Homo sapiens: one gene and its partners. The protein of the gene in region 2 interacts with the protein of the main gene of each other region in a pairwise test. Each region holds a gene or a part of one and is shown on either strand. Other genes may lie near its edges.

Region 1 (4,027 bases), on a different chromosome or scaffold from region 2:
CACTAGTGTCTGGAAATACAAATTCAAGGCCCAGATCTTCCAGATTTTTGTGGTAACACCTAAAGAGATAACCTCAAATGTTAAAAAAAAAAAGAGTGCTACTTCATTTGCACTTCACTACTGGTTCCAAATACTACTTAATAGTTTTTCAAAAGCTGCCACAGGGCTTAACAACCGTATTGTTTTTCTCACACTTATGTGTGGGTGTTTGGGATTTTTTATTATCAAATTTCCTTTTTGAATTACAGTAACCTTTATTGTTTTTCTCTTTTCCATTGGGAATCAATCTGTGTCTAAGTCTTGTTTCTAAGTGTGTTTTCTTCATTGAGGAACTGCTAACTTCTGGCTGCTGGCACTTAAGGGAGTCTGGCATGAAGAAAAGGTCTGAGAGTGATTTGAATCAGCATTAAAGCAGGGAGGTAATTAACAGCCCAAGGAATTGAGAAGTCCTGACTAACGGGATGTAAGTAAATAGATCTGCCTCTAATATAAATTATGTCATAGGGAAAAAAAGATTTACTGGCAGTATCATATTCCCAAACCTGAAACATATTGGGAGAAATTTCTTTTTCATTTTCAATAATTTGTGCTGCCTAGAAGAGGAAAAATATCCTATCTTGTGACTCACTATATGATTCGCCCCTTCCTTACATCCCAATGTTTTACTTTCTTCCCATTATGATTACGATAATGAAAACTAAGAGTCTAGAATGCACCAAAGCAAAGCAGAATGGGACCAATTACTGCAGAAACTTTGCTTTCACAAAGCATGGCATAAACACAGACTGTTCCAAGAAATGAGAAGAGTGTTCTAAGCCAACTGCTGGAAAAAATTATCAGGGAAACTCTATCCTATACTCTTCAGCTGGGATACAGTGGAAAGAATAGGCTGGGTCCAGTGGCTCACGCCTGTAATCCCAGCACTTTGGGAGGCCAAAGTGGGAGGATCGCTTGAGCCTAGGAGTTCAGACCAGCCTGGGTAACATGGCGAAAACCCATCTCTACCAAAAAATTACAAAAATTAGTCCAGCATGGTGGTGCTCACCTGTAGTTCCAGGTACTTGGGAGGCTGAAGTGGGAGGACTGCTTGAGCCTGGAAGGTGGAGGTTGCAGTGAGCAGAGATTGTGCCACTGCACTCCAGCCTGGACAACAGAGTGAGACCATGTCTCACAAAATAAATATTTTAATGGATGATTGGATGCAGAAAAAAATATATTTTAAAAAAGGAAACAAACAGCCTGTGGAGTCAGACGACCTGCCTTTGAGTGCCTGCTCCACTACTTAATAACTGCTATGACCTTAGACAAGTCTTGTAACCTCTCTTGGTCTCATCTGAGAAATGGAACAATAGTTATGCTTATTCCTCACAGAATTATTGTGAGAATTGATACCATCAACATCACATTCTCATGGTGGTACTGACCATAAGAGTCTCCTTTGTTCCTCTGTCACTGTTATCTCTAGCGGAGGAATTAGAGTAGAAGACAGTAATTTTTTCCGACCAGAGCCTTGTGCCTGTTGCTTCTCGTAGGAATCTATTGGCAGAAAGATGAATGGGTTAAGAGTAGGAAGGGAAGTCTTCTAGATTCAGATAAAAATAAAGCACGGCCTTGAGATAATCATTCTAATGCAAAGCAGAATGTTTAATGTTCAGTTTTAGATTTTGGATTTCCATTTTTAAAGTCAAACTAATAAATATTCAGCCTATTAACAATTTTGGTAGTATTTTTCAAAATAAGAAATATAAGACTTGCATCTTACATTCAGATGAACAAGCCAATGTTCCTGTAGTTAATAAATGTTGTTTTGATGACAGAGGTGAATAATGTGGATTACCAGGAACATATGTGGGTTGACCACACAGTCTTATGGCTCCAGAAGGCTTCCCTTTCCTTGAGCAGGGTCTCCCAGTCTCTGGAGAGAATTAGTACTATTCTCAAATGGTGCAGGGCCTGTAGAGGTAAGTTTTTCTAACACTGTTTTTACTATATCTTTCCCAACTCTTAGGCCGTCATTTTATAAGGAAAAGTGAAAACAGTAGTAATATCATTGCCATTCTAGTCCATGAAGCACTCCTTAGGTCCTTGCCTAACTCTTTGACATTACTCATTGGCCACAGGAGTAAAGACTTTCCTGGTATTTTACCACTTGGTGAACACACTGCCTCATGATGAGGAAAAGGGTAGCAAAAAAAAACATTTAAAAAGCATATATTGCTTTGGAAAGATAGATTTAAAAACCAGAGATATTGGTTGTCTCTGGGGAGAGAAACTAGGAGGGGTGGGGACAAGGATAGAAAGGAGACTTTATTATATTCCCTTTTGTGCCTTTCAGAATTGGATCTATTTGATTATACTGCATATTCAAAAGCAAACTAAATTTTAAAATCAAAACAGCATACTGGGCCTTCTGAGCTGCCACTGGTCTCTGCCTGATGGAGTGTGGGAAGGCATGCCAAGATCACCGGGCATATGGAGGGGCAGAGCTTTGTGCTGGATGTCAGAGTAAGCAGCCTATCCTTGCGTACTTCTGGGTTGTTAATAACATCTGGCAAATATGCCTCTGACCACATAAATAAGTTCACATCTTTCAATTAGTGAACTACCACATTCTTTCAATTATAACACAGGCCAAACTGCAGGACTTTAGTTTAATTTTTGAACATACAGTACAAAGTGTGCTTTCTCACAACAGTTGCAGTTAGAAAAGCTCTTTGAGGTGTACTGATTCTGCTGGGAGTCTCAAATTTTTTCTGGCTGCAAACAGATCCTTACCAATGATAAGCTGCTCCAGACGTATACGCTCATGGGCAGCGTGCTGATCCACCAGCACGAGCAGGTTCCCACCTAGATGAGCAAGGATTGTGAACTTTGATTCTCAGAGCAAGACGACAACCATCATGTGTGTTGAGGACAGAGAAGACTTAATTCAAACTATCTAACAACAGCATAAGACAAAACATTCTGAGGAGTAACAATTGTATCTTTTATTTCCTAAAACATGAAATTATGGGGAAAATGATAGCAAACTTATCCCATATGTTTGAATCCCAGATCCAATTCTGAAAGGCACAAAAGGGAATTTAATAAAGTCTCCTTTATACTCTTGCCCCCACCCCTTCTAGTTTCTCTCTCCAGAGATTACCAGTATTACTAATTTTTATCCTATAAGTTTTATTATTTTCCCCATAATTTCATTTTTTAGGAAACAAAAGGTAAACTAAGAAACTCTTTAGTTCACCAGCATCTCATTTAGAAAACATAGTCAGGGCTGGGTGCAGTGTCTCACACCTGTAATCCCAGCACACTGGGAGGCTGAGGCGGGCGGATCATGAGGTCAAGAAATCGAGATCATCCTGGCCAACATGGTGAAACCCTGTCTCTACTAAAAATACAAAAATTAGCTGGGTGTGGTGGCACGCGCCTGTAGTTCCAGCTACTTGGGAGGCTGAGGCAGGAGAATCGCTTGAACCCAGGAGGTGTAGGTTGCAGTGAGCCGAGATTGCACCACTGCACTCCAGCCTGGTGACAGAGTGAGACTCCATCTTAAAAAAAAAAAAAAAAGTCAAAGTGGCATTTCCTCAAGTTTGAAGCTTGAATATATAATTCTTATGTTTAAATACTGATTTTGCCTTATTAATTCAACTTTAATATGATAAAGGATCGTTAAACAACACATTGTTATAATCAGCTAACCTTGGTGTACAAGCTACTTGGAAACCCACAAAGAATGTACTTCCAGTGCACTTTAGATCACAAGCCGGAGAACGTTTTCTGAAGGGCCAGATCATAAATATTTTAGGCTTTTTGGGCCACACGATTTCTGTCATGCCTACTCAACAATTCTTTTTGAGCCAAAGCAGCCATAGACAATATGTGAATATCGTAGCTGTGTTCCAATAAAACTTTATTTATGGACACTGAAATACTAATTTCATATAATTTTAATGTGTCAAGAAATAGTCTTCTTTTTTTTTCCCAACCATTAAAAAATGTAAAAACCATTCCCATCTCCCTGGCTGTACAG
Region 2 (4,027 bases):
ACCTTTTCATTATAAGTCCATTCAGGCTTGAGCCCTGAATTCTGAACCCTTCAGCCTCTTTTATACTGAGAAAGAGATGGTCTCTTTAGAGACACTTTCAGCTTCTTTCTTCTTGCATTGATTTGAACTCTGCAGCATTAGGAATGGCTTTCAAAGTCTAGGCAGATCATAACAAGAAGTCAGCCTCTCCCTTAGCTTCTTCATGAGTGGCTGGGTGTATCATCACCCTCTCCATACCTGTTCAAAGATTTCACGCACAAAGAAGTATTGGCTGAGGGCAGAGCTGTAGGAGTTGAGTTCTTTCAGCATGATCGCTGGGTACTCCATCACTTCCTTTGTCAGGAGGGTGTGAAAACATTCATACCTGGGAGGTAGGTAGGTAAGACAGGAGACCCCAGCTAGGAACCACACCCCTGACCCCAAGGAGATGGGCTGCAATCTGGCACACAACTCTGTGTAGAGCTGCTGTGTGGCTGCTCTTTTATAGCAGCAGTCCTTGGCTATGCTATTTTTCTGATCATACGAGAAATACATACTTTTTGTAGAAAGTTTGGAAAACACACACAAGAGACTTTTCTGCTTGTAACATGAGCTCCCTTTCCCTGTCCAGGGTCCTAACTCTGTCTTTGGTCTTAATGCTGTCCTCGAACTTGACGGTACCTACATTATTCCATCAAACTCGCAAATGCCCCAAGGTCCAGACTTCTATTTCTCAGAGAAGTAGACCAAGGCTCATAGGGTTACGTACTTGCCTAAAGTAATCAGAATTGCCTTCTGAATCTAAGTACTGCAATCAATTGGCAGTGTCGTTCTATTTCTGTGAACAGTCCTTACAGAATCAGCTGTACAAAGTCACAAAGATGCAAGAAAGTTCACAGAGAACTGCTTGTCATATTGAGAAATTGGAACCAATAGAAAACAGCTAATCAATTGAGGGATTGCTAAACCATTATGAAGTATCTACATTAATGAATGCTACAAGGCATTTAAAAAAGGAAGTATATCTGTAGTTATGGAACAATTTGCACGGTATAATCCAACCTTTATTTTAAAAACACTATGTATGTGTATATATTCATATATATAAATGTATATGCCCATAAAAAAGGAAAAGTGGGCAGGAATGAGGGAAAAAAATCTCTATATGTTTGCAGTGGTTAACTTCTTTTTCCCCCTTTAACAAGAATGTACATGTTTAAATTTTTTTTTGTTTTTGAGACAGAGTCTCACTCTGTCACCCAGGCTGAAGTGCAATGGCATGATCTCCTCTCACTGCAACCTCCGTCTCCTGGGTTCAAGTGATTCTCCTGCCTCAGCCTCCTGAGTAGCTGGGATTACAGGGACCTGCCACCACATCTGGCTAATTCTTGTATTTTTAGTAGAGGTGGGGTTTCACCATGTTGGCCAGCTTGGTCTTGAACTCCTGTCCTCAGGTGATCCATCCACATCTTTAAATTTTTAAAAGAAGGCCCCATGTTCTTGAACTTAAGCTGCATTGCTTTGAAACCTCCCTCCAAAAACTTTAAAAAATTCTCCCTGGAAGCTTCTTTGTTGGCTGAGAGTAGAGCTGCAGAGGGCCACATGCTTTCTAAAGTGAGAGGCACAATTTTCATCTTAAGCTGGCAGGCTCCTGGGCTCTTGGGCAGGCTGCCCTTGACCTTGAAGATGAATTCCTGACCATCCCTTCCTGCCTTCTGGAGTCTGGTTGGCCTACCTGGATTTCATGTTCTTCAGATAATCTTTGACCTTTTCCAGGTGAAACGCCAGTGTTTCTTTGTCACTTTGCTGCCTCAGTTGGTCCAAGAGCCTATCGAGGTGGGCCTCCTGCACCTGGAAGCCACCCCCAAAACAAGAGGAAGCAGATGTGACCTCCAGTGCTCACAGAGTGTAAGTGACCTGCAGGGACCCTGCTGCTGGAACTGAGGCCCAGGTGCCTCAGCAGACCCAGGACTTCCTTTCTACAAATGGGGTACCCAATCTGCCACCACCCTCCCTCTCTCCACTATAGCCCTCCAGACTTTTCTCTGCCTGCAGTGTTCTTCCCTGCCCACATCATACCCCTAGGGAACCAGCTCAGATGGGACCCCCTGGAGACAGGGCCCTCACACCCGCCCACCTGGTCAGGCCTGCACTACACCTGCTCCTCGCTCTTCTTCTCACCAGTCGTGCTTGAAATCAGAAGCTGAGTTTGTTCCCCCACCTCCTGGACTGTGTGAGAGCAGGCAAGGCAGGGGCCAGCTGACCTCCTGTGCAGGCAGGAGATTGCCCCAGTTATGGAGCTTTGAAATGATTCCCAACACGTGCACAATTTGCTACATGAATGACATGTTTGTCTGTAATAAGAACTTGGAGTGTCTTCCCCTTTTTCTTTCAGAATGTGATGTCTTATCAGACCCCATATAGGAGAACTTGGAGTTATTCCCCCCACTCACCTTGGGAATGTGATGTCACCCTTAACAGCCCCCCATATGTGAGTTAACCTTAACTACTGGACTTCGAAATACTCAAGAGTTTGACACTTCAAGAGCTTAGGCTGAGGCAGGTTTCACTCTGTCAGTGGCTTCTTTGAATGAGAGAGAGCTCAGGCTGTGATAGGCACTGGGGCTATGAAGCCATGCCACCAGCACCGGCACTACCCTCTGGCTTCCAGGGACCTATGTGCCATCACAGATGTCCACTGTGTTCGCTTGCAAGCCAGTTTCTCCTGAGAAACCGCACATAGAAAGGCACACCTGAAGCTTTTATTAGACTTCCCATGGAAGCCTGCATCCATCCTTATTGAACAACTAGACTTTAATAGCTTTGCAGCTCACAATGTGCCTAAAGTACCTTGTCTACTCCCTGTGGATGTATTCCTTTTGAGGTTGGTTCATGTTATTCTCCCCCTCTTTAAGCATTGTGAACCTATGAAAAAATTCTCTTTCAATGGCAATAAAGTGTGTGATTCGTGATACCATCCTTTAATCGTCTCCTCACTTGAACCATCTGTCTGTCTCTCATGCATGCTCTTAGAGACACATTTGGTTCCAGGAGATTTCTGCTACTCCCATCTGATCCCATGACCAACGTGAGCCTCAATGTCCCCATCTGCACAAATTTCATAGCTTAAGGTTCTCCATTTGGGTCAAGGATCTGTTTGAGTTCATTGCTGTTTGTGGTGTGAAACATGGAGCCCCGGGTGTGGGTCTCACCTGGCTCTCCAGGCTGTGCTTCTGCCGGTGCTGCTCCATCCTCTTCTCCAGCTCCAGCTCCTGCACCAACAGCTCGCTCTGGTGTGCCTCCCACAGTTGTACCACCTCCTGGAAATACTTGAAGAGGTGTGAACTCTGCCACTCTGTCTGATCTGCCAGAGTCTCGAAGGATTTCTGCAGTGGCAGAGCCCAGAGAAGGGACTTAAGGGCTGACAGTCCCAGGGCCAAGAAGAGGGCCCACCTGTGGGACCCCCTGTCTCTAACGACTGAACAGTATTGCCCAGACACCGTCCCTCAAGGTCAACTTCTAGGCCACACCTGTGCTCTTGGTCCTCCCTCCCTAGGGCAGCGTTTCAGGTCTGCCCAAGGCCCTGCCCTTGGTCTTGCTGACCCTCAAGTCCCATCTCTAGACATATCCTGTGCTCCACAAAAGTCTCTGACAGGAAGAAGATGGAGTTTGGGCCATTCCTAAAAACCAGGCTGGGCACTCAGGAGGCCACAGCAACACTGGCCTGGGCATCTTTCCTTCTGTGGAGTTCCCTCACTCATGGCATCTGGGCCAAACACCACACCTGCTGTGAAATCCTCCACACCACCCACCTTTTAAAAAAATGTACGTGTCTTATGCCCTCATCTGGGCCAGGGGTGGGCAAGCTGCCACCTGTAGACTAAATTTGGCCCTCTACCTGTTTTTGTTTGGTCCTGTGAGCTACACACAGATATTCCAGTTTTAAAATGGCTGGAAAATAATCAAAAGAAGATATTTAATGAGATGAAAATTACATACAATTCCAATTTCAGTGTCCATCAATAGTTATTGGAACACAGCCATGCCA
Region 3 (4,027 bases), on a different chromosome or scaffold from region 2:
TATTTCTGCAGCAGGTTCATCTGGGCCACAGACTGGCAGTTAATCTGTAGTGATACAGAGTTGAGGCTTGGCCGATGTGAGCTCTGGAAACTGTGCCATCTCAGTCGGTGCCTGCGAGAGAAGAGGAGAGGAAAATGAGTGTGAAGCCTTTTTATTTGATTTTATTTATTTTATTTTTTCTTGCTCTGTTGCCCAGGCTGGAGTGCAGTGGTGCCATCACAGCTCACTGCAGCCTTGAACTCCTCAGCTCAAGTGATCCTCCTGCCTCAGCCTCCTGAGTAGCCAGGACTGTAGGCCTGTGCCACCACATCTGACTCATTTTTTAATTTTTTGTAGAGATAGAGTCTCCCTATGTTGTCCAGCTTGGTCTCAAACTCTTGGCCTCAAGTGATCCTCCCACCTCGGCCTCCCAAAGTATTGGATTACAAGTGTGAGCCACTGTGCCTGGCCCAAAGGCTTTTTAATAGGTAGAAGCAACATTAGCAATGGGCTGCTTGCTGGCATCTTATCTTAGGAACTGATAGGACTTGATTTCTATCCCATGCTTTAATCCCCATTATGGGAAAATATACACAATATAAAGTGCACCATTTTCACCATTTTTAAATGTGCAGTTGAGTGGCACCAAGTTCATTCTCATTGTGTGACCATCTCTGCCAACCATCTCCAGAACTTTTTTCATCTTCCCCAACCGGAACTCTATACCCATTCAATCCTATCGATTTCTTTGAATTTTGGTGCTTCCTGGTTTGACACCTTCCTTAGGAATGGACATGGCTAAGAATGCCAGACTTAATCCCATTTCTTCCCACAGAACAAGCACAGGCAATGTCTTTCTGACCCCCAGTGCCCCACACCCGGAGGCAGGAGAAAAGTTCTTACCTGTTGGACCTGGTTAGGGAAGCCCCAACCCCAGAATCCCTTCTTTCCGGGATCTCGGAGGGCTCTTCCGGTTCATTCAGGGAGTTGCCTGTGCTGTCCAGGTCGCTGGGTGTGGTTCGGTCGTTGTCCACATCCAGGTGTATCTGTTTTGGAGAGGACGGGCAGGGAGAGACCGAGTCCAGGGCTGAGTCCGAATCTCCCTCATCAGAAAACTTCTCCGACCACTGATTGACTATCCGCTGCATCCCCTTCACGTGGTAGAGGATGTCGTCCAGCTCGGGGAAGATGTCCTCGTTCTCCAGATCCGCCAGGTCCCCTGAACTGGAGTAGAGGATGGAGCCCGGCACGTTGTCGTAGATGCTCAGGCGGCTGCTCATGGAGCTGGAAGAATTGCGTCTCTTCAGTTCCTTGGGGCTGTCGCTACTGTTTTCCCTCCTGAGGCTGATGTGGCCAGGGCCGTGGAAGCTTCCCGTCCTCCAGTTCACAGAGCCGTTATTCCCCGAGGGGGAGAAACTGCCATTGGTGAGAGCTTTGGGGAAAGTGCCAGGCTTGTGATCTTCAGGGATGTAGAACACCGTGTCCTCTGGGTAGCTCTCGCGGTTCTTAAAGTTCTGCTCCACCACGTTGTTAAATGTTGACTGATTGAAAGGATCGAAGCCCTCTAAGTACATGCCCACCCGCTTGTTGCACGCACTGAGGCTCCGGGTCCTCGTAACAGGGCTGGGCGTGCTGACCGCGCTGCTGGTCTCCGACTGGCTGCTGCTGCTGCTGGTCTGCGTGGAGTTGGAAACGCTCCTCTTTCGTACCATGGGGACGTTGATGCGGTTGCCATTGAGGGCGGAGATCTCCACGCAGTTGAGCTGCTTCAGCTTCTCCTCATCCATCCCCTCTTGCAAGATGGGCCCGCTGATGATCAACCCCAGCTTTGAGGGCGCTTTGTGCTTGCTGTGATGGGAGCTCTTGAGCTTCAGGCTCTCCATCCGTTTCAGCAGACTGCGCGTCTTGGACTTGGCAGTTTTTTCGTGGCCTTTCATGCTGAAGCTGAAGCTGGACAGTTCCTTGGGAGAGGGCAGGCTGCCGAAAGAGTCGTCATTGCCTGCCAAGTTGCTGGAGGAGCAAACGCTGATGACGGAGTTAGTCCGGGGGGTGGCAGCATCCTCGCTGGGGGGCGCGTGGCTGGGGAGGCTGCCAGTGCTGCTGAGGCTGCGGACGGAAGACACCTCCTGGCGCTCGCTGAGGTCCATCAGCGTGCCTCCGGGGCTGGGGCCGTCCTTCGGGTGGGAGTCGTCTGGGGACCCAGGGACCAGGTCTTGTTTTGGAGAAAAGACATCAAACTCTTCAAGCCGGGACCACCTCTTGCTGTCCCTTTGGAAAGTCCATTTGCCACTGATGGCACAAGGCTCATCCTCGTCTGAATCGTCACTCTGCAAAGACAGAAAGGAGCCATTCACACACTGGGGCTGGCAGCCAGCAGGGAGCAGGGCATGAGCAGGAGGCTGCTCATAATATGCCAGTAGTATCAATTTCCCCCTTGTACTTCATGATTTTAATTTTAAAGTTTTTTTTTTTTTTTTTTTAAAAATAGGGTCTCACTCTGTTGTACAGGCTGTATTGCCCAGGCTGATTCTGAACTGCTGACCTCAAGTGATCCTCCCACCTGAGCCTCCCAAAGTGCTGCGGTGACAGGGATAAGCTACTGTGCCCAGCCCCACTTACATATTCTTTTTCTTTTTTAAATTTTTTGTAGAGAGCAGTAGTCTTACTATGCTGCCTAGGCTGGTCTCAAACTCCTGGCCTCAAGCGATCCTCCCACGTGGGCTTCCCAAAGTGTTGGGATTACAGGCATGAGCCACAGTGCCCGGTGTTTTGTTTTGTTCTTTAAATAACAAAGATGTATTTAAAGAATTTAACAGGAGAGTGCCTGACCAAATGTTGCAAGTTAAATAAGAACTATTTTATGGAAACTCTGGGATCCATAGGCTGTTCTTTAATTGCTCATAGAGGAAACCTCTGAGATGGTGAAAATTCCAGGCATGCAAAATATTTTGAACTGAAGTCAGCAATGAGCAGGACTGCCTCTGGGCTGCCTTCCATTGTGCTGTCTTTTGTTGGTGTATGTTTATATTCCCTCTTGCAATTAAAAAGGTAGTTTTCAAACACTAAGAAGAGTGGCAACTTAAATCTCTAGACACTAAAAATGTATAAGGTCTCCCACTGGAGTAAAGGGGCCCTGGATCAAGGTGGGTCATCAAGCAGATTCAGTCCACTATCAGTGCTTTGGAGACTCTTACCAGTACCTTTTCTTCCCCTCCCCCACAAGACATGAAGGCTAGCGCTCAGGCCACAGCTGACCTGTGAAGTTTCAACCTCAGTCATGCTCCAGCCAATTGAACAAGGCTTCACAAATACCCAGCCCTGACAGCTCGCGGCATTCATAAACACTAAGGAACGTCTTTGCTGATTATGCCCGATTTATGTACAGGACTCAGGGATAAGCTGTCACACGGACTATTGCATCTTGGCCTTTTCGGCAGGATATCAAAGGGCACAATTCGGTATGATACATGTCTTTTCCACTGGTGTGGAAAATATCCTGTGGCCCAAGTTTCACAGGACAATGAGTGGCAAGCATGGAGCGCTGGCTTCTAGGACTCTTCTGCATAGCTCAGTGGGCGCTGAGGTTCCAGTTCATTTGTTTAAAAGCTTTGACTCCCCAAGAAGGCAACTTTTTGCAGCTCAGGGATTCTGGCATAATTAAAATTTGAACCCGGAAGTCAGAAATATGTTCTTTGACCAGACTCATTCCTGTTTACTCTAATTTGTGACACTTACTCCCAGTACTACACCCACCTCTTCTCCTAAGATCTCATAAAAAGTCTTCACAACTCACACGCAGAAGAAAATACCATCCAGCTCGGTTGTGTACCACCATTTGACTAAACTGTGTGGGATCTCCTGCCTTCTCCTCTTCCTCTTCCAATTCCTTTCCTCCCTCCAAATCTCTTATTATTCTTCAATATTGCACAAATCGGCCTTCGCTTTCATCTCTACAGCTTTGAAGCACAGTTATTGTTATATTTGGGAAGACAGAAGAGTTGGAAATAAACCTCAGTTTATTTCCTCTATGAGCAATGCAAAAATCCAC
Region 4 (4,027 bases), on a different chromosome or scaffold from region 2:
AAAAATTAGCCAGGCGTGGTGGCAGGCACCTGTAGTCCCAGCTACTTGGGAGGCTGAGGCAGGAGAATGGTGTGAACCCGGGAGGCGGAGCTTGTAGTGAGCCAAGATGGCACCACTGCACTCCAACCTGTGGGACAGAGCGAGACTCCGTCTCAAAAAAAAAAAATTAATAATAATAATAATAATGAGAAGCAGTTGAAAAGTAGTTGAAGTTGATATCTGGTCAAGTTGCTCACAGAAATCTCCTGTTAGGTCATTTCAGTTTTCATTATGATTACTTAAAAAAACAACATAAAACATTGAGTCCATTAACTTTCACGGTATGATTTTTTTTTATTTTTTTGAGACGGAGTTTCACTCTGTCACCCAGGCTGGAGTGCGGTGGTACGAACTCGGCTCACTGTAACCTCTGCATCCCGGGTTCAAGCGACTCTTCTGCCTCAGCTCTGCCTGAGTAACTGGAATTGCAGGTGCATGCTACCACATCTGGCTAATTTATATTTCTTGTAGAGACGGGGTTTCACCATGTTGGCCAGGCTAATCTCCAACTCCTGGCCTCAAGTGATCTGCCTGCTTTGGCCTCCCAAAGGGCTGGGATTACAGGCATGAGCCACTGCACCTGGCCACACAATATGAATTTTTAAACATCCATCTCTATGCATAATAGTTTTCTATAACATTTTGGTTTCCCATAAAATTCCACACATCATACATTTTCATAGAAAATTGTCATATGGTTTTGTCACATGGTTTCCTGTAAAATTTCACTCTTTCAGCAAATGTTGGTAGGATTTGCAATTTTTTTTTTTTTTTTTTTTGAGATGGAGTCTCGCTCTCTGTCACCCAGGCTGGATGGAGTGCACTGGCACTATCTCGGCTCAATGCAAGCTCCACCTCCCAGGTTCGCACCATTCTCCTGCCTCAGCCTCCTGAGTAGCTGGGACTACAGGCACCTGCCACCACGCCCAGCTAATTTTCTGTATTTTTAATAGAGACGGGATTTCACCGGGTTAGCCAGGATAGCCTCGATCTCCTGACCTCGTGATCCGCCCACCTCGGCCTCCCAAAGTGCTGGGATTACAGGCATGAGCCACCGCACCCGGCCTGCAATTGTTATTAACTGGGTAAAGAAATAAAATCTGTGACTTTTGCCCTTTGAGCTTCTATTTTTATGATCTATTAGGGTAAAATGGAACATGTCAGAAACAATGTGTAATAATAGTTAAGAAGGAATTTTGTTAACTATTACAAATCCTCAACCCTACACAGTTTTAAAAAAAAATGCTTACCTGAGGCGAGAATCCTTAAAGGTGTCCAGATACGCAGGGTAGCTCCACCCAATTCTACTCCCTTTACATCGAAGCTCTACAGTTTGCCCCGCCAGCAGACTCAGGGTAGCGGCGGGTTTCTGGAAGCGACCTTTATCCAGCACTTGCATCATGATAGACTGCGTCTTTGGTGCTGAATTGGCTGAGTCCCTGTCCTTCATTTTAGGAATTTTGGGCTTCACCTTCTTGTTGGTAGGTTTGATTCTATTCTCTCCTGGTTCTTTTGGACGCTTGTTCTTGGGAAGGTGTTGGCCAGTAACTGCAAAACGTAAGGAGAGAGAAATGCGCTGTAGTAATGACATTTTTGGAATATTTGAGGCCAATAACTTTTTTTTTTTTTTGAGACAGATTCTTACTCTATTGCCCAGGTTGGAGGGCAGTGGCATAATCTCAGCTCACTGCAACCTCCACCTCCCAGGTTCAAGTGATTCTCTTGCCTGAGCACCCTGAGTAGCTGAGATTACAGGTGCCCGCCGCCACACCCAACTCATTTTTGTATTTTTAGTAGAGACATGGAGACAGGGTCTCAGCACGTTGGTCAGGCTGGTCTCGAAGTCCTGACCTCAGGTGATCCACCTGCCTTGGCCTCCCAAAGTGCTGGGATTACAGGAGTGAGCCACCATGCCCAGCCCTCATAGCTTTTAGGTAACTCTAGAGAAGATAACTTTTTAATCCTCCCCTCCTCATATGTCAATATTGTTTTCAGTAAAAGTCATGTAATTATCATCTTTTGATTAATTTTAAAACATTAAAAAATATTTCAGCTCCAAAGATATTATTCAAATTCAGCAAAACAGTTCATGTATGAGCTAAAATTTGCCCTTAGAAAACAAAAATATTACTGCCTGTAGTTCACACCGTCTCATAGTCTCCAAGCAGTCACACAAAACAGCAGAACTGAAGCCATTCAAGGCTGTTTGTTTACTTTGCAGTCTATATGTTGTCACCATTCATTTTGATTCTACTGTTTAAACACAGAAATCTGTAGCTCCACAGAGACTGGGGACACAAACTGTGCTGAAAGTGCACGCAAAATATTTTGTGTTTAACGTTAGAAACGGAATCTCACTCTGTCACCCAGGCTGGAATGCAATGGCATGATCCTAGCTCACTGTAGCCTTGAACTCCTGGGCTCAAGTGATCCTCCTGCCTCAGCCTCCTGAGTAGCTAGGCCTACACATATGTGAGACCATGCTGAGCTAATTTTTTTTTTTTAAAGATGGGGCCTTGCTATGTTGCCCAAGCTGGTCTCAAACTCCTGGCCTCAAGCAACCCTCCCACGTAGGCCTCCCAAAGTGCTGCAATTATAGGTGTGAGCCACTCTGCCCAGCCAAGATTTTGAACCACAGTGAACTTTCTCTCAAAACAAATGGTAAAGCAGACATTACATTTGTCAGGGGCTGGCGATGTCTAGGTAGAATAAAATGCTTATTATTAAAGAGTAAATATTATGTGTATACTAATCTGAAGCTTACATATAAATTATCAAAACTCAACTGTAACTGTAGCAACGATTTAGAATTTCACCAACAAAATGTCTCTGGGGAAGGAGTATTTTATCACCAACATTGTTGAGAGTTGCTGGCAAATAGTGATAATAAAAAGCTAACTGACTTTAAGTTGCTTTTGTTGTCATTTTTGCCTTCTCTATAAGTAAGGCACCCTTATTGCCTGCATCCAGGGAAGAGTGCCCCCACTGTTCTGCCTGTGGTGGGCCACCGGACTCTAAAAATCTCAGCTAAGCCCCTTGCAGCCACACAGTTGTGTCCACTCAACAAGAATGAATAGGGGACTGTAGGCCAGGTGTGGTGGCTCATGCCTGTAATCCCAGCATTTTGGGAGGCCAACGCAGGTGGATCAGTTGAGGTCAGAAGTTTGAGACCAGCCTGGGCAACATGGCGAAACCCCATCTCTACTAAAAATACAAAATTAGCCAGGCATGGTGGCGCATGCCTGTAATCCCAGCTACCACTCGGGAGGCTGAGGCACAAGAACTGCTTGAACCCGGGAGGCGGAGGTTACAGTGAGCCGAGATCACACCACTGCACTCCAATGCCTGGAGACTGAGACTGAGACCGAGACTTGAGCCCACAAGTCCGAGTTTATGATGAGCTATGATTGTACCACTGCACTGCAGTCTGGGTGACAGAGCAAGACTCTCTCTCAAAAAAAGAAAGAAAGAAAGAAAGAAAAGCCCACCATTATCATGCCCAAGAAATCTGTGCCCCATAAATACTTTAATGCCTGTGAAATTAATGAACCTCTGGATTAAGGTCTAATTTGGTATTCTGTGTATCATGTAACAGGAATTCAAGCTACCAGAAATGACAATAACCATCTGTAAATCCTATGGAATTTAGACAAACAGAGCTACTTGTCTGATCCTTCTAAGCTATCACATCTTGTGTATCTATGTTACTCAGGAACATGAGATTATCTGATTTTGGAGATTATGCATCCAAATATTTGCTATTATCTATGCAAAATAATTTGACCTTTTGACCAAATAGCCCCACCAGCTGATCTAACTGTATAGCTGGTCCAGCTGCCTGACCACAGAATTGGCCTGTGGTTTGATGGCAATGATGCAAAGCTAAAGGAGCCAGCCTAGTGTCCCCACAGATACCCAGACGGTATTGGAATTGAGTGACTCCCAAATCCCATGTCTAACTGTTTAAAAGAATATGACTCTTCAGCCT

Evidence for each region.
Region 1: the proteins of CCDC180 (region 2) and MLH3 interact in a two-hybrid assay, tested with the Homo sapiens proteins (one large-scale study listed by BioGRID and IntAct).
Region 3: the proteins of CCDC180 (region 2) and DLC1 interact in a two-hybrid assay, tested with the Homo sapiens proteins (one large-scale study listed by BioGRID and IntAct).
Region 4: the proteins of CCDC180 (region 2) and PDGFRL interact in a two-hybrid assay, tested with the Homo sapiens proteins (one large-scale study listed by BioGRID and IntAct).

What each region holds. Positions count from the first base shown.
Region 1 is NC_000014.9:75,030,644-75,034,670, forward strand, and holds part of MLH3 (DNA mismatch repair protein Mlh3), read right to left. Parts: intron 2,848-4,027; coding exon 2,776-2,847; intron 1,537-2,775; coding exon 1,425-1,536; intron 73-1,424; coding exon of another isoform or gene 60-72; coding exon 1-59. UniProt on the Homo sapiens protein: Probably involved in the repair of mismatches in DNA.
Region 2 is NC_000009.12:97,324,357-97,328,383, reverse strand, and holds part of CCDC180 (coiled-coil domain-containing protein 180), read right to left. Parts: intron 3,366-4,027; coding exon 3,192-3,365; intron 1,831-3,191; coding exon 1,715-1,830; intron 365-1,714; coding exon 238-364; intron 1-237.
Region 3 is NC_000008.11:13,098,465-13,102,491, forward strand, and holds part of DLC1 (rho GTPase-activating protein 7), read right to left. Parts: intron 2,307-4,027; coding exon 883-2,306; intron 112-882; coding exon 1-111. UniProt on the Homo sapiens protein: Functions as a GTPase-activating protein for the small GTPases RHOA, RHOB, RHOC and CDC42, terminating their downstream signaling.
Region 4 is NC_000008.11:17,587,028-17,591,054, reverse strand, and holds part of PDGFRL (platelet-derived growth factor receptor-like protein precursor), read right to left. Parts: intron 1,588-4,027; coding exon 1,290-1,587; intron 1-1,289.